Linked DNA regions of Homo sapiens. The protein of the gene in region 1 interacts with the protein of each later gene in a pairwise test. Each region holds a gene or a part of one and is shown in the gene's direction. Other genes may lie near its edges.

Region 1 (7,026 bases):
GCAGTTCTGCCTTAGAGATGCTTGAAAGAGGGTTTATTGACCACTGATCACATGGCAAGTGCCCTGCAAGGCCTCTAGGGGTATGTGCGTATGTGTGCACATGCACACTGTGTATGGGTTGGCATTGAGTTGAGTGTCCTAAGGGTATGTTCCTGGCCAGAGGTGAAACTTTGACACTTGACTGGTCATGGAGGATGAATTGGTTTGCCAGGTGACCTGAGAATGGGGATGAGACATTCTAGGCAAAGAACAACACATGCCAAGATTGCTTTTATTTATTTTGAGACAGGGTCTCCCTCTGTTACCCAGGCTGGTGGCGCGATCTCTGCTCACTGCAACCTCTGCCTCCCGGGTTCAAGTGATTCCCCCACCTCAGCCTCCCAGGTAGCTGGGACTACTGGCGTGTGCCACCACACCGGGCTCATTTTTGGATTTTTAGTAGAGACAGGGTTTTACCATGTTGGCCAGGGTGGTCAAGAACTCCTGACCTCAGGTGATCTGCCCGCCTCAGCCTCAAGTGATCCACCTGCCTCATCTTCCCAAAGTGCTGGGATTACGGGCATGAGCCACCACACCTGGCCAAGACTGTTTTTAGAGATAATAACTTAGACCAGGCATAATGGCTTACACTTGTAATCCCAGCACTTTGGGAAGATGAGGCAGGTGGATCACTTGACCCAGGAGTTTGAGACCAGCCTGGGCAACATGGCAAAACCTTGTCTCTATAAAAAAATACAAAAATTAGCCAGGCATGGTGGCATGTACTTATAGTCCCAGCCACTGGGGAGGCTGAAGTGGGAGGATCACCTTAGCCCAGGGAGGTCGAATGCATTCCAGCCTGGGTGAGTGAGACCATGCCTCAAAAATAATAATAATAATAACAAGATAGAGGCACAGAGACATGACCTCAGGGTCACGCAGGTAAGAGTAGACCAGGAACTCAAATCTAGGTGTGATTTTGAAGTATGCATGGAAATTGGCCAGGAGGGCTTGTTAAAAATACAGATTGCCTGGCCATACCCCAGAATTTCTGATCCAGTAGATCTGGAGTGGGGCTTAAGATTTAGCGTTTCTAACAGGTTCCAGGTGATGCTGATGCTGCAGGTCAGGGGAACCCTGTGATGTGGACCTCACTAGGCTCTTGATTTGTGCTGTCATACTCAATCCTCATGACGGATAAGGAAACAGGCTTAGAAAGAGTCAAAGTTGTTCACTTGTCTAAGGCCAGGAGCCAAATAATGACAGGTGGCAATAGTATGGGTGGAGGGTTGTCCTTGGGTAGCAGGGAGGCTGGCTAGCACATCCTGGAGTGGAAACCTCCTGGGAAGGTGTAGTGGAGAAAAAGGATTTGAAGTTGATAGCTTGCTTGCTGGAGAGAGGGTGAACAGGCTCTTCCTTCAAGAAAGCTCCCTGGCTTTGACCTGGCGCGGTAGCTCATACCTATAATCCCAGCACTTTGACCGGGCACGGTGGCTCACACCTATAATCCCAGCACTTTGGGAGGCTGAGGCAGGCGGATCACTGGAGGTCAGGAGTTCGAGACCAGCCTGACCAACATGGAGAAACCCCATCTCTACTAAAAATACAAAATTAGCCAGGCGTGGTGGCACATGCCTATAATCCCAGCTACTCGGGAGGCTAAGGAAGGAGAATCACTTGAACCCGGGAGGCGGAGCTTGCAGTGAGCCAAGATCACGCCACTGCACTCCAGCCTGGGCAACAAGAGTGAAACTCCATCTCAAAAAAAAAAATTAAAAAAAAAAGCTCCCTGGCTTTCTGCTAACGTGTCCTTTTTGGGTGTGGTGTCAAGTCTTGCATAGCTGGACTGTGGTCTTGGAGACAGGATGCACTAAGAGTAAGAGTGATTAGTCAGAGGAGTGGGCCTGAGAACTCAGGAAAGGCTTGTGAGGGACTGAGGCTTGAGTTTTTACTTTAAACAGCGCCACTTTTTTTGTTTTGGTTTTTTTGAGACAGAGTCTCGCTTTGTCACCCATGCTGGAGTGCAGTGGCCTGATCTCAGCTCACTGCAACCTCCACCTCCCTAGTTCAAGCAATTCCCCTGCCTCAGCCTCCTGAGTAGCTGGGATTACAGGCGCACGCCACCGCGCCTGGCTAATTTTTTTGTATTGTTAGTAGAGACGGGGTTTCACCATGTTGGCCAGATTAGTCTCCAATTCCTTTATTTATTATTATTATTTTTTTTTGAGATGGAGTCTTGCTCTGTCACCAGGCTGGAGTGCAGTGGCACGATCTCTGCTCACTGCAACCTCTGCCTCCCAGGTTCAAGCGATTCTCCCACCTCAGCTTCTCGAGTAGCTGGGATTACAGGCCCCCGCCACCATGCCCAGCTTTTTTTTTTTTTTTTTTTTTTTTTGTATTTTTGGTAGAGACAGGGTTTCACCATGTTGGCCAGGATGGTCTTGACCTTGTGATCCACCCTCCTCAGCCTCCCAAAGTGCTGGGATTACAGGTGTGAGCCAGCGCGCCCGGCCAAGCATCACTTTTTAAAACAGCCAGTTTATTGAGACAGGTGCTTTGCAGGTATTGTCATTACAACCCTATGAGATAGATGTATTTTCCTCATTTTGCACATGAGGAAACCGAGTTTCTGGGTGCAGTGCTTTGCCCTTGCACCCAGCAGGTAGAGAGTGGGGCTGGACTCCAGGCTGTGGGACACTGTCCCCTGCTCTGATGCCTCATGGCCTTTCTTCCCTCTCCAGCTTATCACACAGACTTTCAGCCACCACAATCAGCTGGCACAGAAGACCCGGCGGGAGAAGAGAGCCCGGCAGGAGGCCGAGCGGCGGGAGAAGGCGGAGCGGGCGGCCAGACTGGCCAAGGAAGCCAAGTCAGAGACCTCAGGGCCCCAGATCAAGGAGCTAACTGATGAAGAGGCAGAGAGGCTGCAGCTAGAGATTGACCAGGTGAAGGGTGGGCTTCCCTTCTCCACCCCTCAGATCCCCCCTGGCACTGAGCAGTGGGGTCCTGTTGCCAACTGCTGTGCTCTTTGCCCCAGAAAAAGGATGCAGAGAATCATGAGGCCCAGCTCAAGAACGGCAGCCTTGACTCCCCAGGGAAGCAGGTGAGATGGACTGCAGGGACTTGGGATGAGCCAGGAGCTTGGAACTTACAGGAAATCTCCTGCCTACTGCTTTCTCTGGAATACCCTTCCTTATCCTATCCCCTCCCCTCCTGGCTTTGGGAATCTTCCCCATACTTTAAGATCACACTCAGAGACATTGAACCAAAGGATCCAGGTTAAAAAAATAAAAACCTGCCAGGCGCAGTGGCTCACACCTGTAATCCCAGCACTTTGGGAGGCCGAGGTGGGTAAATCACGAGGTCTGGAGTTCAAGACCAACTTGGCCAAGATGGTGAAACCCCATCTCTACTAAAAATACAAAAATTAGCCAGGCATGGTGGTGGGCGCCCGTAATCCCAGCTACTCGGGAGGCTGAGGCAGAGAATTGCTTGAACCCGGGAGGCGGAGGTTGCCATGAGCCGAGATCACGCCACTGCACTCCAGCCTGGGCGACAGAGCAAGACTCCGTCCCAAAAAAATAAAATAAAAACCGACTGACCTTAACCTGTTTATGGCAAGAAAACCCAATAGCCAGAGAGGGCAGTGCCTATTACAGGTCCCATCTGAGGTTGGCTGGGTTCTGTGGGCCCAGCCATATCCTTTGTCACATGGTATAATATTAATAGTCTGAGCTCCTCTCAGACTGAGATCAGAACCAAGTTTTACCTGGTTCCCAGTGGACCAAGGCTTGGGGGTCTGCCCCTCTGTGGAGTGGGCAGGGACCAGGTCTGTTTTCTTTTGTGGCTGTATGCCCAGTGCTAGCCCTGGGCTTGGCCCAGTGAGGGTTCAATCTGTGTCTTGTCTGTCAAGTAAGTAGCTGAGTGTCCCTGATTGTAAGCAGGATACTGAGGAAGATGAGGAGGAAGATGAGAAGGACAAAGGAAAACTGAAGCCCAACCTAGGCAACGGGGCAGACCTGCCCAATTACCGCTGGACCCAGACCCTGTCGGAGCTGGACGTGAGTGTCAGGGACCAGAGGTAAAGCTTAGGGGGCCAGCCTGGGGTACCAGCAGCACTTAGTGGCCTCTTCTGACTGCCTCTGCCCTATGCAGCTGGCGGTCCCTTTCTGTGTGAACTTCCGGCTGAAAGGGAAGGACATGGTGGTGGACATCCAGCGGCGGCACCTCCGGGTGGGGCTCAAGGGGCAGCCAGCGATCATTGATGGGGAGCTCTACAATGAAGTGAAGGTGGAGGAGAGCTCGTGGCTCATTGAGGACGGCAAGGTGGTGACTGTGCATCTGGAGAAGGTATGTGAGGCCCAGCCCTTCTAGCCTGGGGTGTTGATGGAAGTAGAAGGGAGGATGTGTGCTTAGTTTACTCAGGAGCCATGCTGGGGGCATTGTGGGATTATCTTAATCCCCATGACAACACTCTTTAAAGTAGATCTGTCTCTATTTTATTTTCTTAAAGACAAGGTCTCACTCTGTTGCCCAGGCTGAAGTGCAGTAACACCTTCTTAGCTCACTGCAGCCTTGAACCCTTGGGCCCAAGCAATTCTCTCGCCTCGTCCTCCTGAGTAGCTAAGACTACAGGTGTACACCACCACGCTCGGCTAATTTTTGTTATTAAATTTTTTTGTAGAGACCGGGGGGTCTCACTATATTTCCCAGGCTGGTCTTGAACTCCTGGCCTCAAGTGATCTTCACACCTTGGCCTCCCAAAGTGCTGAGATTACAGGCTTGAGTCAGGAAAAGAGCTCGTTGATTTACCCAAGCTCCTACCTCTGGGAAGGGGTGGAGTCAGAATTGAAAGTCTTAGTTTCTAAAGCCACTTCTTTTTCACTAGGTTTGTACATGCATTCAATTCATCAAATACTTGAACACCTGCTCTGTGCCTGGTACTGTTCTTGTTCTAAGTGCTGGAAAGAGAACAGTGAACAAAACATAGGAAAATATGTGCCCTCAGGAAGCCTTCATTCTCAACCTCACTGCCTTTACAGAGAGGTAGGACACAGAGATCAGTAAATAAAGGTGGTCTGAAAAGGGCCAAGGGTCTGAGGAGAACTTCCCAGGGCACATAAGACCCTGTAACAGCCTGTCCGACTGGCACTGGCTGCCTTCACTCACTCACCCCTCCATGCCTCTGCACTTGCTTTGTCGCCCAGGCTGGAGTGCAGTGGCGCGATCTCGGCTCACTGCGAGCTCCGCCTCCTGGGTTCATGCCATTCTCCTGCTTCAGCCTCCAGTGTAGCTGGGACTACAGGCGCCCGCCACCATGCCTGTATTTTTTTTTTTGTCTGTTTTGTTTTCTATTTTTTAGTAGAGACAGGGTTTCACCGTGTTAGCCAGGATGGTCTCGATCTCCTGACCTTGTGATCCGCCCACCTCGGCCTCCCAAAGTGCTGGGATTACAGGTGTGAGCCACCATGCCCAGCCCTTTCCCTGCCTTTTAAATTTATTTTTTATTTTTTGAGACAGGGTCTTGTTCTCACCCAGGCTGGAATGCAGTGGCGCAATCACGGCTTACTGCAGCCTTGACCTCCCGGGCTCAAACGACCCTCCCACCTCAGCTTCCTGAGTAACTGCGAGCGCCACCCTACCTGGCTAATTTTTAAATGTTTTTTGTAAAGACAGGGTCTCATGTTGCCCAGGCTGGTCTGAAACTCCTGGGCTCAAGGGATCTTCCTGCCTTGGCTTCCCAAAGTGTTGGGATTACAGGTAGGAGCCACTGCACCTGGCACTTCCCTGCTTAAAAACTTTTTCTGGCTGGGCGTGGTAGCTCATGCCTGTAATCCTAGCGCTTTGGGAGGCTGAGGTGGGCAGATCACGAGGTCAGGAGTTTGAGACCAGCCTGGCCAAGATGGCAAACCCCATCTCTAATAAAAATACAAAAAATTAGCTGGGCATGGTGGTGGGCGCCTGTAATCCCAGCTACTTGGGAGTCTGAGGCAGGAGAATCGCTTGAACCCAGGAGGTGGAGGTTGCAGTGAGCTGACTGCACCACTGCACATGGTGGCTCACACCTGTAATCCCAACACTTTGGGAGACTGAGGCAGGCAGATCATCTGAGGTCAGGAGTTTGAGACCAGCCTGGCCCAATATGGTGAAGCCCCGTCTCTACTAAAAATACAAAAATTAGCCAGGTGTGGTGGTGCATGCCTATAATCCCAGTTACTCGGGAGGCTGAGGCCGGAGAATTGCTTGAACCCGGGAGGCAGAGGTTGCAGTGAGCCGAGATGGTGCCACAGCACTCCAGCCTGGACAAGAAGAACAAGACTCCATCTCAAAAAATATATATATTTATTTTCTTCCCATTTTAAATCTGGAATACTGCTTTGTGTCTTAAGACTCAGCCCGAGTGTCACTTTCAAACTTTTCTCCCTCCACCCTGGATGAATATCTCCCTTTCTGCTTTCTTCTTTCCCTTATCACACTGATTTGTAACTCTTTGCCTCTGTGTCTCCCCTAGCTGCAGGAAGGGCACAGTCTTGTACCTCTGGATCCAGTGTAGGCCTGCAAGGGTCTCAGGTGCAGGATGTGGATGGGAGAGAGTTTGGTTGTGAAAGGGTTAAGGGGTGATTCCTGGTGCACAGAGCAGGCCACCTCCCACCCTCTGGTTGTTCTCTTCACAGATCAATAAGATGGAGTGGTGGAGCCGCTTGGTGTCCAGTGACCCTGAGATCAACACCAAGAAGATTAACCCTGAGAATTCCAAGGTGAGCCCTGGCTGGTTGGGGGAGCTTCAGCAGGAAGGTGAGGGGCCTCGTTGTTTCCAGAGCTTCACCGATTCCTGTCACTGCCTGCCCTCAGCTGTCAGACCTGGACAGTGAGACTCGCAGCATGGTGGAAAAGATGATGTATGACCAGCGACAGAAGTCCATGGGGCTGCCAACTTCAGACGAACAGAAGAAACAGGAGATTCTGAAGAAGTGAGCAATTCAGAGACGGGGTTGGGGGACCGTGGGTGCCTGGGGGCTTAGACTTCGGTGACAGCAGTGAGTGGAT
Region 2 (7,026 bases), on another chromosome or scaffold:
TCGCCCTGGCTGGAGTACAGTGGTGTGATCTGGGATCACTGCAACCTTCGCCCCTGGGCCCAAGCAATCCTCCCATCTCAGCCTCCCAAGTAGCTGGGACAACTGGTGCACCATCATGCCCATCTATTTTTTTGTTTGTTTGTTTTTTGGGGTTTTTTTTTTTTTTGTATTTTTAGTAGAGACAGGGTCTTGCCATATTGCCCAGGCTGGTTTTGAACTTCTGAGCTCAAGCGATCCTCCTGTCTCAACTTCCCAAAGTGCTGGGATTACAGGTGTGAGCCACAGTGCCCAGCCTAGTGTATGTTATTTTGATTTTAACATTGCACTTGTATATTTTTAATGTCCATATTGTATACTGTAGACCCTACTCAAAGAATAAATCTGGAACTATTCATGAAAAACCCCTCCAGTAATCACCTAAATTCTTGAATGTTAGAAGCACTTGATAGGACTCTAGCTTTGTACTTGATCACATTTACTCATGTGTTCCTCTGAAAATCATTACATCACAGGTTAACCACCTTTTTAGTTTGCCCTAAAATTTTCTCCTATGCATAAGCCCAATGAACACGGAGAAATGGTAAATTTGTATTATGTTCAGTGAAAGGTTATTCTTTTTAATTCTAAAAAGGTGGGCAAGCTGATTATCATTTATAATTTAAAGGTTATATTTGATAAAGAAGGAGATCGTCCTTCTGTGGTGATCATTTCTTCAAATAGAGTAAATTTTAAAAATCACTTTAAGAATCCAATAGAGAACAACAAAGCCATATTGAGATGCAGGTTTTAGGAATTTGGTAGTAATCCCTCACAAGGTCAGACTTGATCTCCTGGACAATCAGGGCATGCTAGTCAGCTTTCATGACTCAGCAAAGCTACAAATTATGTATTTTGGCTTTTTGTGGAAATTGCCAACCCTACAGATAGCAAACGTCTCCTCGGTTGTCAAAAAGTAAGAGTAGTTTTTAGAATTCTGCCTTTGGGTCTTGTAGAATGAAATATTTACAAGATTTGCTATTTGTTAACATTTTAGCTACTTCCTTGTTCCTTCAGTCTTGCTGCTGTGCACACCACCATACCAGGAATATGAGGGAGAAAGCTAGCAAGACAGCTAAATAATTGGAAATTCTGCTTGGAGGTTAGACTGTGTTGTAAAATGGTACAGACAGTGCCTGGGCATTTTCATTGATAGAATCCTTGGAGTCGTTTGGGGTTCGTTGTCAAATGATGTCTGGCAGTGCAGCAGCATGATAGGAAGTGAAGAAGGAATGCTTATTTGCAGAGGAAGGATGACTTTTTTTTGGTTTGAGGCATGTCAAACTGATGGTAAAACCTTTTTTATCCCTAAGTTTAGTTTTTAATGTTGCTGCATAATTAAATTGGGTTTTTAAAAGTAGATCATTGGATTTGGAGGCAAAGGACTTAAGGTCTGGGCCCCGTTTACTAGCTTTGGCTTCCCTGGACTTTTTGGATATTAAAGAGTCAAATGAGATTATGAATAAGCTTCTTTCTTGGGGCCTGTGGGGAGGTGTTGGGAAGTAACTCATCTCTGAAAATTGTTGGCAGCAGTGGAATTGGCATGGAATTTTCAACAGAAGGCAGATGTAGCTAGTTGTCTAAAGTAGAAAATAGAAGATGGTAAAGGTTAGAATGGAAGTTTGTCTCGTTCCTTCTTGGGAGTGCTGTATCATCTATAGTCATCATCCTGCCATGTCACTTGTCAGTGTGCCTGTTTGTGTGTCTCGGTGGTCTGGTTACCATAGTGCACTTGTACAGCATCAAACCACAGAACCTGGTGATGTTAGTCACGCCTCTATAACCTGTACTTTTGTTATTCAGAAATATGACTTCTAAGTGTTTTCTGGTCTAGTGCTTGGTGGTCCCTCCTCATTAATCTTGTTTTTCAGAAACTCTCTGGCATCCTTGCTTGTTTATTCTGTTTAAACTTTTAACATCAAATTGTTTAGCTTCCCCGCTCTGCTGCAACAACCATCCTGATAATCATAATCATTTTTTATTGAAATCACTTTCAGTTGAACTCTCCTGTACAAGAACGTGATGTGTATCTCTTCCTGTTCCCTTTTCTTTTTTTTTTTTTTGAGACAGTCTTGCCCTGTCACCCAGACTGGAGTGTAGTGGCGCAATTGTATTTTTAGTAGAGATGGGGTTTCATCATGTTGCCCAGGCTGGTCTCAAACTCCTGACCTCAAGTGATCTGCCTACCTCGGCCTCCCAAAGTGCTAGGATTATAGGTGTGAGCCACCGTGCCCTGCCCCACTTTTTATTTTTGTTTTTATTTTTGAAATGGGGTCTCACTCTGTCACCCAGGCTGGAGTGCAGTGGCGCGATCTCTGTTCACTGCAACCTCCACCTCCCGGGTTCAAGTGATTCTCCTGCCTCAGCCTCCCAAGTAGCTGGGACTACAGGCTCATGCCACCACACCCAGCTAGTTTTTGTATTTTTAGTAGAGACAGAATTTCGCCATGATGACCAGGACCTCAGGTGATCCACCTGCCTCAGCCTCCCAAAGTGCTGGGATTATAGGCATGAGCCACTGCATGCATCCTAAAATAGTATGACTTTAACAAAGGATATTTGGTAAGATGGTTCTTAGAACACTGGCATTTTACAGTATACTTAGCATTTATTTTAAATTTATTATTATTATGTTTAAGAGACAGGATGTCCTTCTGTCTCCCAGGCTGGAGTGCAGTGGCTGGATCATTAATGAGGAGGGACTGCCCCTGCAGGCTCCAAATCCTGGGCTCAAGGGATCGTCCTGCCTCAACTAGCCTAGTTTATGTTTTAATTTTTTGTCTCCCTATGTTGCTGTTTTGAACTGGCCTCCCAAAGCTCTGACCCTATATTTAGCTTTTTTAAATTTTTTTATTTTTTTCTTATTGAGATGGAGTCTCGCTGTGTCGCCCAGGCTGGAGTGCAGTGGTGTGATCTTGGTTCACTGCAGCCTCCGCCTCCCAGGTTCAAGTGATTCTCCTGCCGCAGCCTCCTAAGTAGCTGGGACTACAGGCGCGTGCCACCACACCTGGCTAATTTTTGTATTTTTAGTAGAGATGGGGTTTCACCATATTGGCCAGGCTGGTCTTGAACTCCTGACCTTGTGATCCGCCTGCCTTGGCCTCCCAAAGTGCTGGGATTACAGGTGTGAGCCACTGCACCTGGCCTACTTAGCATTTTTAATGCGTTGAAAAATCCTGCATTAAAAAAACTATTGGTCCCATTGTGAGGAACACTTGAATATATGTGCATACATAACATACCTTCTTGGATCTCAAACTTTAGCACACACACAAGAATTGCCTGGAGGGCTTGTTAGGACTACAGATGCTGGATCTTGCCTGCCTTGTTTCTGGCAGGAATGGAAGTGGGGCCCAAGAATATGTGTTCCTAACAAGTTTCCTGAAGCTGCTGGTCCAGAACCACACTTAGAGAATCATTGGTTAAGGTAATGGTTTAACTTTGTTTAATGAGTAAATTTAGGAGAGTAACATAGGAAAAGAACCTGTCTACCAGATTTTCTATAAGTGAACCGGCCAGGATTGTTCTTTACAAGAAGAGTGACCATTGTAAAATCTAAGCAAAAATTGCAGGTTGGGCGTGTGAAGTTGGATGTATTTTTCCTACACATTGAAGGCTCAGAAACATTCTTTGTGCTTATTCTCAATACCTTTTGCATTACCTAGTCCATAGGCTTATAGTGTAATATTGAATGAGCCAGTTTTGCATTTTAGTGAGATGTGAGACTTGTTGGTATGTGTGTGAAGCACGGAATTGAGCCACTTGACTTTGCTGGCTGGGTGTTAACTGGTTGATGTTGGGTTTTATGTTGATCTTGGACCCTCCCCCCTTCCCTGTTACGATCATGTCTGGGGAGCACTCCAGGGTGAGCCTGTTCTGTAGGAGCCCTCTGGGCATTCTGTACCTTTTTCACCAGAGGCAGAGTCTGAAAGTGGGCAATAGTTGCAGAATATACCTGGCACTGTTTTGAGGGCCTCAGTTCTGTTGCTCTTATATATGCCATTGTTTACCAGTTCCAGTACACCTTCCTCATGGAAGTTTCTCACATACTACTTGGGAATAGCTAGCTTTCCTAATGCGGTTTAGGGCACTAGGGACAGTGGCACTTTGGATTTGCAGTGAGTGGTAGAAATAAGGTTTTGAAATTAAGTCAAGGAACATAATGCTGCAGGGTGTACCTCCATAATTTTTAAGAAAATGTATTTCTTTTGTGCTTTATTTATAGGTATTTCAGAGAGATGGGAATGATTTGCACATGACATATAAAATAGGACTTGTTGAAGCTCTATGTGGATTTCAGTTCACATTTAAGCACCTTGATGGACGTCAGATTGTGGTGAAATACCCCCCTGGCAAAGTAATTGAACCAGGTAAATCTTGATTTTGTCCGATTCTGGTTTTCAAGTATTTTTGAAAAAAATTACAATTTGTAATTTTTTTATACTGCATAACTCTAAAAAAAATTGAACACCTCTTTTGGGTAAAATTATTAATCATTTCCTCTTAAATAATAGGGTGTGTTCGTGTAGTTCGAGGTGAAGGGATGCCGCAGTATCGTAATCCCTTTGAAAAAGGTGATCTTTACATAAAGTTTGATGTGCAGTTTCCTGAAAACAACTGGATCAACCCAGACAAGCTTTCTGTAAGTGTTCTTTAAATTAAACAACAGTTGACTTCCAAGTTTGGAGTTCGGTTTTTGGTTTTTTAGACAGGGTCTCTGTCACCCAGGCTGGGGTGTAGTGGTGTGATCGTGGCTCACTGCAGCCTCGACCTCCTGGGCTGAAGCGATCCTCTCACCTCAGCCCCCAAGGAGCTGGGACTACAGGTGTGTGTTGCCATGCCTGGCTAATTTAAAAAAAATTTTTTGAGACACAGTCTCACTGTGTCACCCAAGCTGGAGTGCAGTGGTGTAGTCTCGGCTCACTGTACCCCCCGCCTCCCAGGTTCAAGTGATTCTCATGCCTTAGCCACCCAAGTAGCTGGGATTACAGGCATGAGCCACGATGCCTGGTAAGTTTGTTGTTGTTGTTGTTTGTTTGTTTATGGGGTTTTTTTGTTTGTTTGTTTTTGTTTTTTTTTTTGAGATGGAGTCTTGCTCTGTCACCCAGGCTTGAGTGCAGTGGCACGATCTCAGCTCACTGCAAGCTCCACCTCCTGGGTTCATGCCATTCTCCTGCCTCAGCCTCCCAAGTAGCTGGGACTGCAGGCACCCGCCACCACGCCCCGCTAATTTTGTTTTTGTATTTTTAGTTAGAGACAGGGTTTCACCATGTTAGCCATGTTAGATCGATGGTCTCGATCTCCTGACCTCATGATCCACCTGCCTCGGCCTCCCAAAGTGCTGGGATTACAGGCGTGAGCCACTGCACCCAGCCAAGTTTCTTTCTTTTTAAGAGAGTCTCGCTCTGTTGCCCAGGCTGGCGTGCAGTGGCATGATCATGGCTTGCTACGGGTGTGTACCACCACACCTGGCTAATGCTTTTTAAAACTTTTTATAGAGATGTTGCTATGTTGTCCAGACTGGTCTCAAGCAATCCTCCTGCCTCCCGAAGTTCTGGGATTGCAGTCGTGAGCCACTGCACCCAGCCGACTTCAAGTTTCTTAATAGTCATGTTACTTTCAATTTTAAAGTATATTTGTGTGATTGGTAGGCTTTCCTAGTTGTTAGGAAATGGGGTATTGCTGGTGTAAATGTTGATGGGGCCAAGCAGGGAATTGTAGAGGAGTAAAGTAGACCCGGTGTGGGTGGTGATGAGGAGTAGCACTCCCTGGAGAGAACAGGTTCCTCATTTGCAGAGGGCAGGACCACTACCCCTTTATCGTAAGCTGGTGTCCATGCCGGATGCAGGAAGGTGTGTCTCCTGTAGAAACTTTCTAATGTTTAAGTATTGGCAGATAATGACCTTTTTTTTGGTTCTTAAAGCAATAGATGGGTTGCACAAAAGATGTCTGCAGAATTTGGCCTGTGAGTGATGAGTTTGTGATCTTTTACTTAGAGTTCAAAGTCCAGTCCACATTCCTTTTTTTAACTTTTTTTTTTTTGAGATGGAGTCTTGCTCTGTCACCCAGGCTGGAGTGCAGTGGCACAATCTCAGCTTACTGCAACTTCCACCTCCCAGGTTCAAGCGATTCTCCTGCCTCAGCCTTCTGACTAGCTAGGATTACAGGTACCCACCACCATGCCTGGCTAATTTTTTGTATTTTTAGTAGAGACAAGGCTTCACCATGTTGTCCAGGCTGGTCTCATCTCCTGACCTCATTATCCGCCCGCCTCAGCCTTCCAAAGTGCTGGGTGGGATTATAAGCATGAACCACCACACCCAGCCCCTTTTTAAACTCTTAAACAGACACTGGATTCTATGTATCAAAAGGAAAGTTGATGAAAATATTACAACCAACCTGGTTTTTGTTTGTTTTAATAAAGGAACTAGAAGATCTTCTGCCATCTAGACCGGAAGTTCCTAACATAATTGGAGAAACAGAGGAGGTAGAGCTTCAGGAATTTGATAGCACTCGAGGCTCAGGAGGTGGTCAGAGGCGTGAAGCCTATAATGATAGCTCTGATGAAGAAAGCAGCAGCCATCATGGACCTGGAGTGCAGTGTGCCCATCAGTAAACTCTGCAAACAAATTGCACAGGTGGATTTTCTTTCCACATTTGCCTGATTTGTTCTCAGCAATCCAGCTGGAGTGTCTTATCAATCCAGATGAACTGAGGGACATCTGTTGGTCTATGTATAACTTTTAAAATTGGTATAGTATCTACAGAGTGTATAATTTAAACTAACCACAAAGCTTTACATCTTCATTTTGACTGTTCCATAGCAGAATAAAGCACTTGAAAGGAAACAAGACTCCCTTTCACACATGGATTATTATAAGTTTCAATCCTGGTATCTGTGCTTGATTTTTATCAGTTTTGTGTAGATTTTTATGTTTCATATTTTAAATTTAAATCCCACATTGTAAAGTTTGTACAATTTGTCCTGAA
Region 3 (7,206 bases), on another chromosome or scaffold:
GGAGAAACCCCGTCCGTACTAAAAATACAAAAAAATTAGCCGAGTGTGGTGGCACATGCCTGTAATCCCAGCTACTTGGGAGGCTGAGGTAGGAGAATCGCTTGAAGCCGGGAGGTGGAGGTTGCGATGAGCTGAGATTGCACCATTGCATTCCAGCCTGGGCAACAAGAACGAAACTCCATCTCAAAAAACAAAAAACAAACAAACAAGAAAACAAAAATTAGCCAGGCATGGTGGTGCACGCCTGTAATCCCAGCTACTCAGGAGGCTGAGGCAGGAGAATTGCTTGAACCTGGGAAGTGGAGGTTACAGTGAGCCAAGATTGAGCCACTACACTCCAGCTGCCTGGGTGACAGAGCAAGACTCCTTTTCAAAAAAAAAAAAAAAAGAAAGAAATAAAGAAAAAAGAAAACAGAATTCAGGGCTGGGCGCAGTGGCTCATGCCTGTAATCCTAGCACTTGGGGAGGCTGAGGCAGGTGGATCACCTGAGGTCAGGAGTTCAAGACCAGCCTGGCCAACATGGCAAAAACTCGTCTCTACTAAAAATACAAAAATTAGCTGGACATGGTGGTGCACACCTGTAATCTCAGCTACTTGGGAGGCTGAGGAAGGAGAATCGCTTGAACCCAGGAGGTGGAGGCTGCAGTGAGCCGAGATCGCTCCATTGCACTCCAGCCTGTGCAACAGGGGTGAGACTCCATCTCACACACACACAAAAATAATAAAAATAAAAAATAATTCAGTTGATAGAGAAGAAATAATTTTTTTTCTGAAAGAAACCAAAGTACTAGGAGAGGAAAAAACCATGAAAGCCTTTTAAATACACACACACACACACCCCCACCATCTTGGATGTTAGCTTTTAAGTAAGCTGACTTTAAGCCATTAAGCGCCTTTAAAAAAAACCTTTTAAATATCATTACCATATTTTAGCTAGAACAAATAACTGATATTTCAAAAGTAACACAAATATCAAACCAAAAAGGGCTTGATTTAGGAACCAAACCCAGGCTGTCCTGGTGAAAAAAAGTGGGCAGAACCTTAGCTATGGAACTGCAGTTTGGGGCAACAGCATTCCTCTTTCAGTTTGGCTTGGTTAGCAAAAAGGTGGCCTTGTTATGTAAATAAAGCCCCTTAGGTAATCAAAATAAAAAATCTCTCCTTATTTTTTTCTTTTTGCTGGCTGTTTTTCTCTCTCTTTTTTTTTTTTGAGACGGAATCTCGCTGCGTCGCCCAGGCTGGAGTGCGATCTCGGCTCACTGCAACCTCTGCCTCCCGGGTTCTGAGTGATTCTCCTGCCTCAGCCTCCTGAGTAGCTGGGATTACAGATGCCCACCACCATGCCCAGCTAATTTTGTATTTTTAGTAGAGATGGGGTTTCACCATGTTGGCCAGGCTGGTCTCGAACTTCTGACCTCAGGTGATCCACCCAACTCGGCCTCCCAAAGTGTTGGAATTACAGGCGTGAGCCACCTTGCCCAGGCTTTTTTCTTTTTCTGTTGTGGGAATTTAGCCAATTCAGAGGCCTTGTTCCCCAAACTTTGGAACTTTCCTTCAGATTTGATCAAGTCAGATATAATTCATCAACCTCAATGGGAAAAAGAATGAAACAACAAAAACAGAAACAAACAACAACAAAAAACAGTTAAGCAAAAAAAAAAAAAGTGATCGCACAATTTGTTTATTTATTTTATTTATTTTATTTTTTTTTGAGACGGAGTCTCGCCCTGTCGCCCAGGCTGGAGTGCAGGGGCTTGATCTAGGCTCACTGCAAGCTCCGCCTCCCGGGTTCATGCCATTCTCCTGCCTCAGCCTCCCGAGTAGCTGGGACTACAGGCGCCAGCCACCACGCCCTGTAATTTTTTGTATTTTTAGTAGAGACGGGGTTTCACCGTGTTAGCCAGGATGGTCTGCGATGTCCTGACCTCGTGATCCACCCGCCTTGGCTTCCCAAAGTGCTGGGATTACAGGCGTGAGCCACCATGCCGGGCTTGATCGTACAATTTATATGATTACTGAGCACTCTAATGGTAAGGAAAATTAAGACCAGCTGGTTGTTAACCTTAACTTCAGCCAAGAAAATCCCCAATTCGGCTACTTACCTAAGAACAGGTCTTAGGCTAAAGACTGCTCTCTACCATCCCAGAAGTAGGGAAAACTCAAACTTTCCTTCTCTGTTGGAAGCGAGCTCAAACTCCAGAAAGGAGTTACCTGCCTTCCATCGTCAGGGAAGCAGGAAAACCTGCCTTCCTTGTTGGAAACAAGTAAAACTCCAGAAAAAGGAGTTGTACAGTAAAATAAACTTTAGATGTTAACCAAATTTGGGAAGATCAGGAATTTTGTGGAGGGGGGCTCCCAGGCCTTAGCAAATTGTCCTGTAGATTTGAGCCATAAAGATAGCTCAAGCTGGTACCAAGCACCGATAGGAGATCTGTCAAAGGTCAGGGGCACCTCCACTCAGAATCCTTTCGTGGTTGCCAAACTGTCAACCCGAAATACCTGAGACAGGTCTCAGTCAACTTAGAAAATTTATTTTGCTAAGGTTAAGGACACACCCATGACACAGCCTCAGGAGGTCCTGACAACATGTGCCCAAGTGGCCTGGGCACAGCATGGTTTTATACATTTTAGGGAGACAAAATACATCAATCAATACATGTAAGATTTACATTGGTTTGATCTGGAAGGACAAGACAACTCGAAGTGGGAAACTTCCAGGTCATTGGTAGATTTAAACATATTCTGATTGGCAATTGGTTGAAATAATTATTATCAGTAGAAAGGGATATCTCGGTTAAGATAAGGGGTTATGGAGACCAAGGTTTTACCATGCAGATGAAGCCTCCAGGTAGCAGGTTTCAGAGAAAATAGATCGTAAATGTTTCTTATCAGACTTAAGGTTTTTGTTGATGTTAATGCTGGAGGGTATAATGAGGCATGTCCAACCCCCACTTCCCATCATGGCCTGAACCACTCTTTCAGGTTAAATTTGAGTGCCCTGGCCAAGCAGGGAGTCTATTCAGATGGTTGCTGGTGGCCTTCAAATTTTATTTTATATATATATATATTTTTTGAGACGGAGTCTCCCTCTGTTGCCCAGGCTGGAGTGCAGCGGCAACATCTAGGCTCACTGCAATCTCTGCCTCCGGAGTTCGAACAATTCTCCTCCCTCAGCCTCCCGAGTAGCTGGGTTTACAGGCGCGTGCCACCACGCCCGGCTAATTTTTGTATTTTTAGTAGACATGGGGTTTCACCATGTTGGCCAGGCTGGTCTCATACTCCTGACCTCAGGTGATCCACCCACCTCGGCCTCCCAAAGTGGCAAAGTGCTGAGATTACAGGCGTGAGCCACTGAGCCCGGCCTCTCCTTCTTTTAAAGACTGGGTTTCTAACAGCTTCTGAGGCCTTAAGGATCCTGACAGGGCCGGGCTGCACCACACTCCCTCGTGTTACAAATGGGGAAACCGGGGCACAGAGCAGAGGCGTTTTTCCTGAGATCACACAGCCAATCAGGGCGAGAACTGAGAATCGAACCTTGATCTCTCCACTCCATGATTGTGATTCCGAGTAACTCATGTTATTTTAAATCGACACTTGTCTTAAGAACGTTCGGACGGCGAACCACTGAGAGTTCCCGAGGGGCGAATACTCAGCTCTCAATAGGTTCCTGCGGGGAAAATCTGGCTGCGCCGGCGCGCGCGGGTGCTTTAACGCAATCTGGTTACAGCAACCCACGTGTCCTCCGCTTCCGGGATCCTTAAGGCCGTCGCTTCGGGTGGTAAAACCCGGCCCGCCCTCTTGTTGCCCAGGCTGGAATGCAATGGTGCAATCTCATGTTGGGAAGTGTAGCTCCACCTTCCTCCAGACATAGGGGCGTGGGCGGCTTGGAACTGCATTTCCCAGGAGGCTGCGCTCGCCGTTAGAGTAGCCGGACGACGGGCTGGTGGGGTGAACCCTTCATCCTGGGTCTTTTAATTTCTCAGGCGGAACGAGTGGCGGCGGACAGAGGCTTTTGGCTGCGCTGTCTGTGGGTTGTCTGGGCTTGGGGAACTGGGCACGGAGACCGTGGCGCCGGCCGCCGGTCATACAGCTCTGCTTCCAGTCGTCGGGCAAAAAGCTGAGGCGCTTCTCCTTTAATTGCGGTGGGCGGGGCGTGCCGACGCGGCCCGCGTTGCTATTGGTGGCCGTTGGGGGCGCGGAAACTGAACGGGCCGCAACGGCCACCGCAGCTGCCTTCGGCGCCGCCAGCCCCGCCATGGCTGCGCCCTGCGCGGTAAGCCCAGCCGAGAGCAACTCCCCAGGCCTCAGTCTCCCCGCTGGGACACTGGGCGCCTAATGGCCAGAGCGATGGCTGCGAGGGGCGGGCGGGGCGCCAGGTTCCAGGGTGGTCCTCTTCAGGTCCAGTTTACTGTCTGCGCAGGGGGCGCTGGGTCGGGCACTTTCTGAGCGCCTCCTGCGTGCCAGGCCCTGCGCTGGGTTTCTGGAGCGAACAAACAGGCCTCTGCCTCCATAGTTTGCATCCTAGCGAGGGACACACGACCAAGTCCCGACTCATGTGTGACCTGGGGCCGGTATCGGGCCTCTCTAGCCATTCTCCACGTCCTTAGCAGTGGGTGGCTGCGTGGGGTCTTGTTGAGGGTACACCCTGCTCCAGCAGGTAGGTACAGCAGGACGCTGGGATGCCCGGGCCTGCAGTGTGAGCGGGGCGGAGCCGCCCTCTCTGAGTTCACATTCCTCCAGAAGTCCTCATTTCGAGAGATTCCTTTGAACGGGCAAGGCCCTCTGGCTGATTGGAGAGTCAGGGAGGCTGGGTGGTAGCCTGTGATGCCCTGAGGCACTTGAGGACATGGACGGAGATTCCAGGCTAGGATACAGACCTTTTGACTCCTAATCTGGTACTCTACCTCCCTTCCTGTCCCCTCATGTATAAACCACTGTTGAGGGAGATGAGGCCCACATGCAGGGAACTACAGAGGGGAGGCGGTGTTGAGAGATACCATGGGACCTACTGGTCAGGGGTGGACCTGAACTTGCCTCTGCCCACTGAGCCTAGGGGCGGACACTCTCTTACGCATGTTCTTTCAAGAAGCTTAGGTGAGAGCAGAAGGCTCTGTTGGGGACCCTCCCCCAGCTGCTCCTCCCTCTGTTGTTGAAAGGAGACTCTGACAGGTGCGTTAGGGGTGGAGCTGGGCACAAGGCCATAGGGCCTTTGTTCTGGTTACTGCTCTGTAGGGTGGCAGTGGCTTTGCTGTGCCCCAAGGACATCCTTTCCCAGGAGGAGCCTTTGGGCTTCCTGGAGCACCCAAAATGCTTCTTTGAGGTTTCTGATACTTAGAGTAGGGGGAGATGTTTGGATGGCTGAATTATAACCCTTCAAGTGTTAAGACACAAGCTGCTATTGGATGGAGAGAGTCTCCGGAGTATTCTCTCTGGTGTTTTAACTTTATTAAGTTATTCATACACCACAGAATTCACCTTTTAAAGTGTACATTTCAGTAGTTTTTAGTACATTCACAGTGTTGTGCAACTGTAATCACTAATTCCAGAATATTTTCATCATCCCAAAAAGAAACTCCATACTCAATAACAGTCATACCATTTCTTCTCTTTCCCCATTTTCTCCCAACCCTTGGCAAACTAATATATTAATACTTTCTGTCTCTATAGATTTGACTATTCTGAACTTTTCATATGAATGGAATCAGACAAAATGTGGCCTTTGGTGTTTGACTTCTTTCACTTAGCATGTTTTCAAGGTTCATCCATGTTGCAGCAAGCATCAGCACTTCAGTCGGTTTTATGGCTGAATAATATTCTGTTGTATGAATATGCTACATTTGGTTTATTCAGTCATGTGTTGATGGATCATTTGGGTTCAATCACTTGTTGGCTATTAAGGAAAATGCTGCTCTGAACATTTGTGTACAAGTTTTTGTGTAAACCATGTTTTCAACTCTTTGGGGTATTTACCTAGAATTGCTGGGTCATTTGCTAACCACGTTTAACTACTTTATTTTTTATTTTATTTATTTATATTTATTTTATTTATTTATTTTTTGATTAGGAGTCTCACTCTGTCGTCCAGGCTGGAGTGCACTGGTGCAATCTCGGCTCACTACAACCTCCTCCTCCTGGGTTCAAGCGATTCTCCTGCCTTAGCCTCCCAAATAGCTGGGACTATAGGCGCCCACCACCACGCCTAGCTAATTTTTGTATTTTTAGTAGAGAGGGGTTTTCACCATGTTGGCCAGGCTGATCTTGAACTCTTGACCTCAGGTAATCTGCCCGCCTTGGCCTCCTAAAGTGCTGGGATTACAGGCGTGAGCCACTGTGCCCGGCTAACTACTTTTTTTTAGTCAGGGTCTTGCTCTGTTGCCCAGGCTGGAGTGCAGTGATGTGATCACAGCTCACTGCAACCTTGAACTCCTGTGCTCAAGCAGTCCTCCCACCTCACCCTCCTGAGTAGCTGAGAATACAGGCATGAGCCACTACGTGTGGCTAATTCTTTAATTTTTTTGTAGGGTCAGGGTCTTGCTGTGTTGCCCAGGTTGGTCTTGAACCCCTGGCTTAAAGTGATCCTCCTGCCTCAGCCTCCCAAAATGTGGGGATTACAGGTGTGAGCCACTTCACCTGACCTATGTTTAACTTTTTGAGGAACTGCCAAATTACTTTCTATAGTATCTGTGTTTTTTGTTTGTTCGTTTGTTTGTTTGTTTTTAAAGATTTTTTTTTTTTTCTGGGTGTCTTGCATTTTCATGTGAATCTTGGGAGCAGCTTGTCAGTTTCTGCAAAAAAGACACCTGGGATTTTGATAGGAATTATGTGGAATCGGTAGATCAATCTGAGGAGTATCGTAGTATTGTATCTTAACAATAGTAAGTCTTCCTGTTCATGAATGTGGAATGTCTTTCCATTTTTTAAGTCTTCTTTCATTTCTCTTAGTGATGTTTTGTCGTCTTTACTGTACAAGTCCTGCACTTCTTTTGTTAAATTATTCCTTTTTTTTTTTTTTTTTTTGAGACGGAGTCTCGCTCTGTCACCCAGGCTGGAGTGCAGTGGCACAATCTCTGCTCACTGCAAGCTCCGCCTCCTGGGTTCACACCATTCTCCTGCGTCAGCCTCCTGAGTAACTGGGATTATAGGCGCCTGCCACCATGCCCGGCTAATTTAAAATATTGCTATTTTTTTTATGTATCATAAATAGT
Region 4 (7,026 bases), on another chromosome or scaffold:
GTTATGTGCAGAGGTACCTGAGCAAAAAAATTATGTGGGAATGCAAAATTGTCCCAAAGATGGGTTCCCTGTACCAGCAAACATTATTTGGCATTTTAAAGAAGATGGAACTATTTTTCACCCACACTCAGGACTGTGTCTTAGTGCTTATCGGACACCGGAGGGCCGACCTGATGTACAAATGAGAACTTGTGATGCTCTAGATAAAAATCAAATTTGGAGTTTTGAGAAATAGAGCACAACAGCACTTTCGTCATGAGCTGACAGTAGTGTCAAGAAAGTCAAAGAGCCTTAAGAGCCTCAGTGAAGATTGTATTTTATTTTATCAAAAGCCACCTAGCAGTCATCTGTGGAGCACTGGAAAGCTGGGGTTCATTTTGGTATATCACACTGAAACTGGGTACCCAGAGTGCTGCTGTTTAATATTTCACAATGCCTTACTTATTGGTTGTTTTATATAAGAGTTTTGTCAATATGGTCTCTTCTTAAAAGAAGTTGACTATGAATTGAAACACACAAAACATTTAAGTGCCAGACTTAATATTAAAGAATGTAAAGGTCCAAGTAAAATGAGGTATGATTTATGTTGATGTGTAAGTTCACCGCACATCCCACTTTTTAACAAAACTCATGAATGTGCAGTTTGAGCCATTGCTATTTTGATTACATAGAATTTGTATTTCTTTTTTAGCCAGCACATTAAATTTTAGATTTTATTTTTTAATCTAATTTTTTTCTAATCAAAAAGAAAATTGAGCTTAAGGCAAAAGGCCTGGTTTTAGAGATATGTGTAATTGGAAGAGGGCATTTGTTTGAGTGTGAGTTTGGAGGCCTTTTTAACATGCAGACATACCCATATTTAAATGAAATGGGGAGATATTTACATTCCGTACTTTGTAAACTTGAGCTATTGGACTTCACTGATGTATATATTAATACCTCAGATTCCTCTGATTTTGTAAGCTGTCTTCTCTGTGAACGTGTTTGTGTGTGTAGGGCATTTTCTGATTGCACTTCCTTAAGTTATGAATGTACTAGAAAGGGACTCATCCAGAATACTATGCCTCCCTTTGTTAATGCTTAATCATTTAAAGTAAACACAATTGAAGCCTCTCTGAAGTTAAACCCAACTATGTTTATTAAAATGTGTGAAACTGAAAGTGGGCTAGGTTCTACCAAGGCTGTGGAACTCTCCTACGAGTTCTGCTGATCAGGAAATTTAAGAATTTATCTTAAAAATGCAAGGAAAAAAGACTGCCTTGGCAATTGTGAATGGTGCTTTCAATCTCCTAGCACCGAGCCTGGCACTTAGGCAGCTTTCAGTAAGTGGGTGAATGAATGACTGAATGAATGAATGAATGGCTCAGCTGAGGAATGTAACTTTGGTCAAGTTATTATGATGTGTTTGGGCTTAGTTTTCTCATTGGTAAAATGTGGGTGCTGGATTGGATCTTAAAGATCCCTTCCAGCTCTGAAATGCTGATTGTACAGTATATTCTTCCCAGATTGACTCACTGTGCAATCTTTACAATACTTTTTATCTTTTCACTTTTGACATAGGTAATGTTGTTGAGCAGTTGAGCAATGTTCAGTCCAGTTGTGAAGCTGGAGAAGAGAAATGGGTTTTAAAAATTAAGTGAGGGGAGGCCGGGTGCGGTGGCTCACGCATGTAATCCCAGCACTTTGGGAGGCCAAGGCAGGTGGATCACGAGGTCAGGAGATCCAGACCATCCTGGCTAACATGGTGAAACCTCGTCTCTACTAAAAATACAAAAAATTAGCCAGCTGTGGTGGCGGGCGCCTGTAGTCCCAGCTACTCAGGAGGCTGAGGCAGGAGAATGGCGTGAACCTGTGAGGCAGAGCTTACAGTGAGCCGAGATCGTGCCACTGCACTCCAGCCTGGGCGACAGAGCAAGACTCTGTCTCAAAAAAAAAAAATAATAATAAAATAAGTGAGCTGAACTCACCTGAAGTGGTTTACTTCTGTGGGTTAAGAAGTTCTAGTCAGTGTTCATAGTCGTTTCGTTTTGATAATTGTTGAACCAATTTTGTTTTTAAAACCTTTAGACTCTGAAAGTAATATTTTGACTAAGAATGTAAATATTTCCAAACTAAATTACTCGGGAAGTAAACGCTTTTTTTAAAAGTATTTTTACTGGTTTTATACCAATATTATATGCAGAAATCACAGGATGAATTTAGAATTAAATCTCAATTAGTTCACTTTGGCCTAGATTTATGAAAAATGCATGCCTCGTAAAGAGTCCACTGTATTCACGAGTAAAGTTGCTTTTAGTGTTCACTTGATGACTTGGAGAGTAGGAATTTTGCAAAATCTGAATTTAAGGAAATTCTTTAGGATAACCATTTCAAAAAATAAAATTGCTATGCAATCTTGAATATTTTCTCTTTTGCCTCGTAAAATGAAAATGCATTCACAGTTTCTGTAAATTATTTAGCAGCCTTAAAGTTTATCAAAAAATTGTCCAGATTCCACGTGCAGCATGCTTGGCCCTGCATTTAATTTAAGAAGGATTAATAATAATGCTCTGAATTTTTCGAAAGGGATTCTCCTAAACCCACCCACTTCTCTTGCCCAGGCTGCTTTTTAAAAATATTTTTTTATTTTTTACTTATTTTTAAATTTTCTCTTTTTATTTATTTTTGGTTTTCTTGTTAGCCACCTGTTATATGGGAGAACGAAAATTGTTATATTTTGAAAGTACTTATTACATTATTTTTATTTTAGTATCTTGATGCTCCTGTCAAAAGGGAAATGAGGCTTTTAAAAATAAAGTACCTTAATTCTTTATTGACTTTTTGCCCTAAATTGCTAGGTGTGACCCAGCAATCTTTTAGGAAGAGATTTTACAGTGGTGCTTTATTTATATCAATAATCCAGTATAGTTAGGCTGTTCATTCCTCATAATAGAGTACATAACAGAAAAGTGGGACTTTCACATTTTCATATTTAGGCACGTTCCAATTTAATTCCAAAAATACTCTGTAATTCTACATCTAAAAAAACCGATTCCCTAATTCGAATTTATTGGTACCAAAGCTCTCTTTGGCTATAGACAATTAAGAGTTGACCTTTTAAGTTAATGTATATGCTTAAAAACAGTTTTAGGAAAATATTTGGTAGACAAAGAGTTTCAACTTTAAATGTTCACTATGTCATTTAGTGTCCAACTTTACGGATAGGTTGACTATCTAAATAGGCATTTTTAGTCATTAAAAAAAATCTAGTCACCAGGAGGATCCCTATAACTCAAAATAACTTGTTTGTAAAAGAAAATTTGTTTACTTACCCATTAGTAAGTTCCTGCATATTCATTATAAGATGGCAAATCAAACTTTTCTAGGATGAAGACAGCTTATTTTTAAGTTGTATAGTCTTAGTTGGTTTAGGGTCTCAATTTTAATTAATAAAATACTTGGTTTTTATTTGCTTGTCCTTTTGAATTCCTGTTTTAATAATTTTAAAATGAGCACAAAGAACGTTGAAGTTCAGATTAATCTCTTCTGAATGATGTTTTTTTCCTCTGTGATGAGTTGTTTCTGACTTTTTTCCTTTTGTATTTGTAATGTTGATTAAGATGTAAAATAAAAAGTGTGCCTGATTATTTTTGCAAATAGATTGTGATTATTTTAGCCTATGGGAACATACTCCTATGTATACATTTATAATGGCAATGGAAGTAAGTTCAGCTTGCAGTTCTTTTACTTATTTGAAAATTCAGACAGTGGATATTTAAAAAGTCAAAATTCCCATATTATTTTACAACGTGTCATTAATCAGCAAGTATTCTGAAGGGGTGTTAGTACCATTATTTTATTAACTACTCATGAGCAAACTAGAAATGATCTGGGATCTCTGGGGCCCACTTGGACCACTATAAAAGGAAGCAATGGGCACCTGGACATATTAGCACCAATTTCACTACCCTGGGTGGAAAACAAAAATGTCTGTCCTCTAAACCACATATCCTCATATTTCCCCGGTCCATAAATGAAATTCCCTTCCACCAGTGGCCTGTCTCTTCCTCTTTAGTGATTCCTAAATCCCTATACCCCTGTCTCTCCTTGGCCAGACACACTGCCTGAGAATGACTCTTCTAAGGACTCTAACAAAATCAGATGGTCTTATAGCTGCATTTAGCATATATATAGGTGACCTAAACATATTTTCACTAATTTTTATACACTTAAAAGTTCCTGTAAATACTTGTATTCTAACCTTACTCTCTAAGTGACTTGCAGCTCTGTGTAAATCACTTCATCTCTCTGTGTTTCAGTTTCACGAGTATAAAAAAGACTGGAAAATCCATAGAGACAGTACATTAGTGTTTGCCAGGGTCTGGGAAAGGGAGGAATAGAGAACGCTAACAGAGATGAATTTTTGGCAGGTGGCAGGGGGTAGGGGATTATGAGAATGTTCTGGAATTTGTGATAAAAGTTGTGCAAATGTTGGGCAAAACACTGGTGTACTTTAAAAGACTAAATGTTATGGTATTTAAATAATATCTCAGTTTTTAAAAATACCTCAGGAAAAAAAGCAGGCTGGAGAATTTCAGGTGTCTCAGAAAAGATTTCTCTTTGCATGCTAGACCTCTTTGCATGCCTCTGTGCATGCTAGACTTTAGAACAGGCTAGTAGTATTTAGTATTAATAATACTTGAATCATTGTGTAATTTGCAGAATTAAGAAAGTTACACACATATATATGAATGAATCAGTCTGCTTAGTATTAGGTGGGGCTTGGAAATCAGTTTATATTGGAGTTTTTCCTAAAATTTCAGAGAAACTTCAATCAATCCTTTTGGACAGGAGGTGGAGATTACTGTAAAAGGTGAAATGAGCTCCTGAGTTGTATAGTTGTCCACAGCAGAAATGAAAATTAGAGGGCACATGTCCTCAGGACCTCCTGATGCTGTGTCATGTTTAAAAAAAAAAAAAAAGGAAAATTAGAGCAGTCCTTCTAACTTAATAATTATTGGGGTACTACTTTTTCATTCGTGCCAAGCTTTATCAATCTTCCAGGCTGGGCTGGGAGTGATATCTACTGCAGGCCAGCAGTGTCTTCGGGTGTCTGGTCACCATTCTAACCTGTCTATTTGCATTTATCTAATCCTGTTCAAAAGGGGAAGAGGAGGCACTCTATTTATTTACTACTCCCTTATTTAGTTAAGGCTACTGTGTGCCAGATGCCATTTTATGCTCTGGGTATACATACAGAGGGGAAGAAAGCAGATGTGCTTCATAAGATGGTATGAAGAGTTCATGGTCCAGTGGTGGAGACAAATAATTAACAAGTAAACACGAATCCATTTGTTGGAACAACATGATGAAACAAAGGAAAATAGTCAAAGCTGTGAAGGAAAGGAATAGAATGCTTTTTTCTTTTTTTTTTTTGAGACCAAGTCTCACTCTGTTGCCCAGGCTGGAGTGCAGTGGTGTGATCTTGGCTCACTGCAACCTCCATCTCCCAAGTTCAAGCGATTCTCATGCCTCAGCCTCCCAAGTAGCTGGGACTATAGGTGCATGCCATAATGCCTGGCTAATTTTTGTATTTTTAGTAGAGATGGGGTTTCACCATGTTGGCCAGGGTGGTCTGGAACTCCTGACCTCAAGTGATCCACCCACCTCAGTCTCCCAAAGTGCTGGGATTACAGTTGTGAGCCACTGCACCCAGCCATAGAGTGCTTTTTAAAGGGAGGATAACAGTGGAGACATCCTTATATTTATGGGGTCAAGGAATACTTCCCTGTGAAAGTTAGATTTAACTGAAGACCAGAAGGAGAAGTTAGCTAGGTAAGGACTAAAAGGAGAGTAGCATAGGCAAAGATCATGGGTGAGAAAGAGCTGTCCTAGATCAAGAAAGTATAAGAATGCCAGAATGGGTAGAACCTGGTAAACAGAGATGAAGCTGTAGGGGGAGGTAGAGATAGCTTAGGCAGGGCCTTGAAGCTATAGTGGGTTTAAATGGTGGCCCTCCAAAACATGTGTCCATGTCGTAGTCCTTGGAACCTGTGATGTGACCTTATTTGGGAGGAAAAAGTCTTTGTAGATGTAAGTCTACAAAGGATCTTAATGATTATGAGATCATCCTGAATTATCTGGGTGGGCCCTAAATCCAGCGATGTGTCCTTGTAAAAAACATACAGAGGACATAAGAGGAGGCCACGTGAAGCCAGAGGCAGAGATTGGAGTGACACAGCCACAAGCCAGTGAGTGCCTAGAGACATCAGGACCTGGGAGAGGTGGGGAATGAGATATCCCCTAGAGCCTTTGGAGAGAGTGTGGCCCGGCCAACACCATGATTTCAGGCTTCTGGTTTCTGGAACTGTGAGATAATAAATTTCTGTTGTTTTATGCCTCCAGGTTTATGGTAATTTGTTACAGCAGCTACAGGAAACTTGACATGTTTTAGGATTTTGTTCTGAGAGTGGTGGAAATTGTTGGAGGGATTAGTAAGGGAATAACATGATTTGATTTGTACCTCAAAAAGACCACTCTGGCTACTATATGGAGATTGTACTATTAGTAGGGAAATCACTTAGGGGGATTATAGTAATACCAGCAGATGATGTTGGTTCAAACTAGGATAATGGTCTTCAAATTAGTGTGATGGTCTGGGCAAGATGGAAATTTGGGAATTATTAGCATATAAATGGTATTTAGTGTCATGGGAATGAATGAGATCACCTGGGAAGAATGTAGAGCAATGAGAACAAATACCCCATGTCTGAATATTGAAGATATCCAACCTGTAGATCAGAAGAGGAGATAGCAAAATAACCTAAGAAAGAATAATCAGAAAGATAGGAGGGAAAGCCGTTATAGTAGGGTATCATGAAAGCCAAGGGTTAGGAGTGGGGTAGAAATGTTGAAGATAGAGACAATATTAAATAGTCATTAGAGAGAGTGGAGGAAGAAACTAATAGAGAATCATGCACCACTTTGGAGTATATAAGACCCATGTGAACTTAGTTATCAAATTTATAGTGTTTCCAATCTGTTTGG

The links.
Region 2: the proteins of NUDC (region 1) and DNAJA2 interact in binary tests that used the Homo sapiens proteins (3 or more experiments, as listed by UniProt).
Region 3: the proteins of NUDC (region 1) and POC1A interact in binary tests that used the Homo sapiens proteins (3 or more experiments, as listed by UniProt).
Region 4: the proteins of NUDC (region 1) and POC1B interact in binary tests that used the Homo sapiens proteins (3 or more experiments, as listed by UniProt).

What each region holds. Positions count from the first base shown.
Region 1 is NC_000001.11:26,938,737-26,945,762, forward strand, and holds part of NUDC (nuclear migration protein nudC), read left to right. Parts: intron 1-2,720; coding exon 2,721-2,924; intron 2,925-3,016; coding exon 3,017-3,082; intron 3,083-3,923; coding exon 3,924-4,040; intron 4,041-4,134; coding exon 4,135-4,329; intron 4,330-6,653; coding exon 6,654-6,737; intron 6,738-6,831; coding exon 6,832-6,950; intron 6,951-7,026. UniProt on the Homo sapiens protein: Plays a role in neurogenesis and neuronal migration. Necessary for correct formation of mitotic spindles and chromosome separation during mitosis. Necessary for cytokinesis and cell proliferation.
Region 2 is NC_000016.10:46,956,655-46,963,680, reverse strand, and holds part of DNAJA2 (dnaJ homolog subfamily A member 2), read left to right. Parts: intron 1-4,261; coding exon 4,262-4,406; intron 4,407-4,550; coding exon 4,551-4,678; intron 4,679-6,460; coding exon 6,461-6,652; 3' UTR 6,653-7,026. UniProt on the Homo sapiens protein: Co-chaperone of Hsc70. Stimulates ATP hydrolysis and the folding of unfolded proteins mediated by HSPA1A/B (in vitro).
Region 3 is NC_000003.12:52,151,423-52,158,628, reverse strand, and holds the start of POC1A (POC1 centriolar protein homolog A), read left to right. Parts: upstream 1-4,205; 5' UTR 4,206-4,256; coding exon 4,257-4,274; intron 4,275-7,206.
Region 4 is NC_000012.12:89,516,022-89,523,047, reverse strand, and holds part of POC1B (POC1 centriolar protein homolog B), read left to right. Parts: coding exon of another isoform or gene 1-235; exon of another isoform or gene 236-3,636; intron 3,637-7,026. Other genes in the region: GALNT4 (polypeptide N-acetylgalactosaminyltransferase 4), read left to right, coding at 1-235; POC1B-GALNT4 protein, read left to right, coding at 1-235.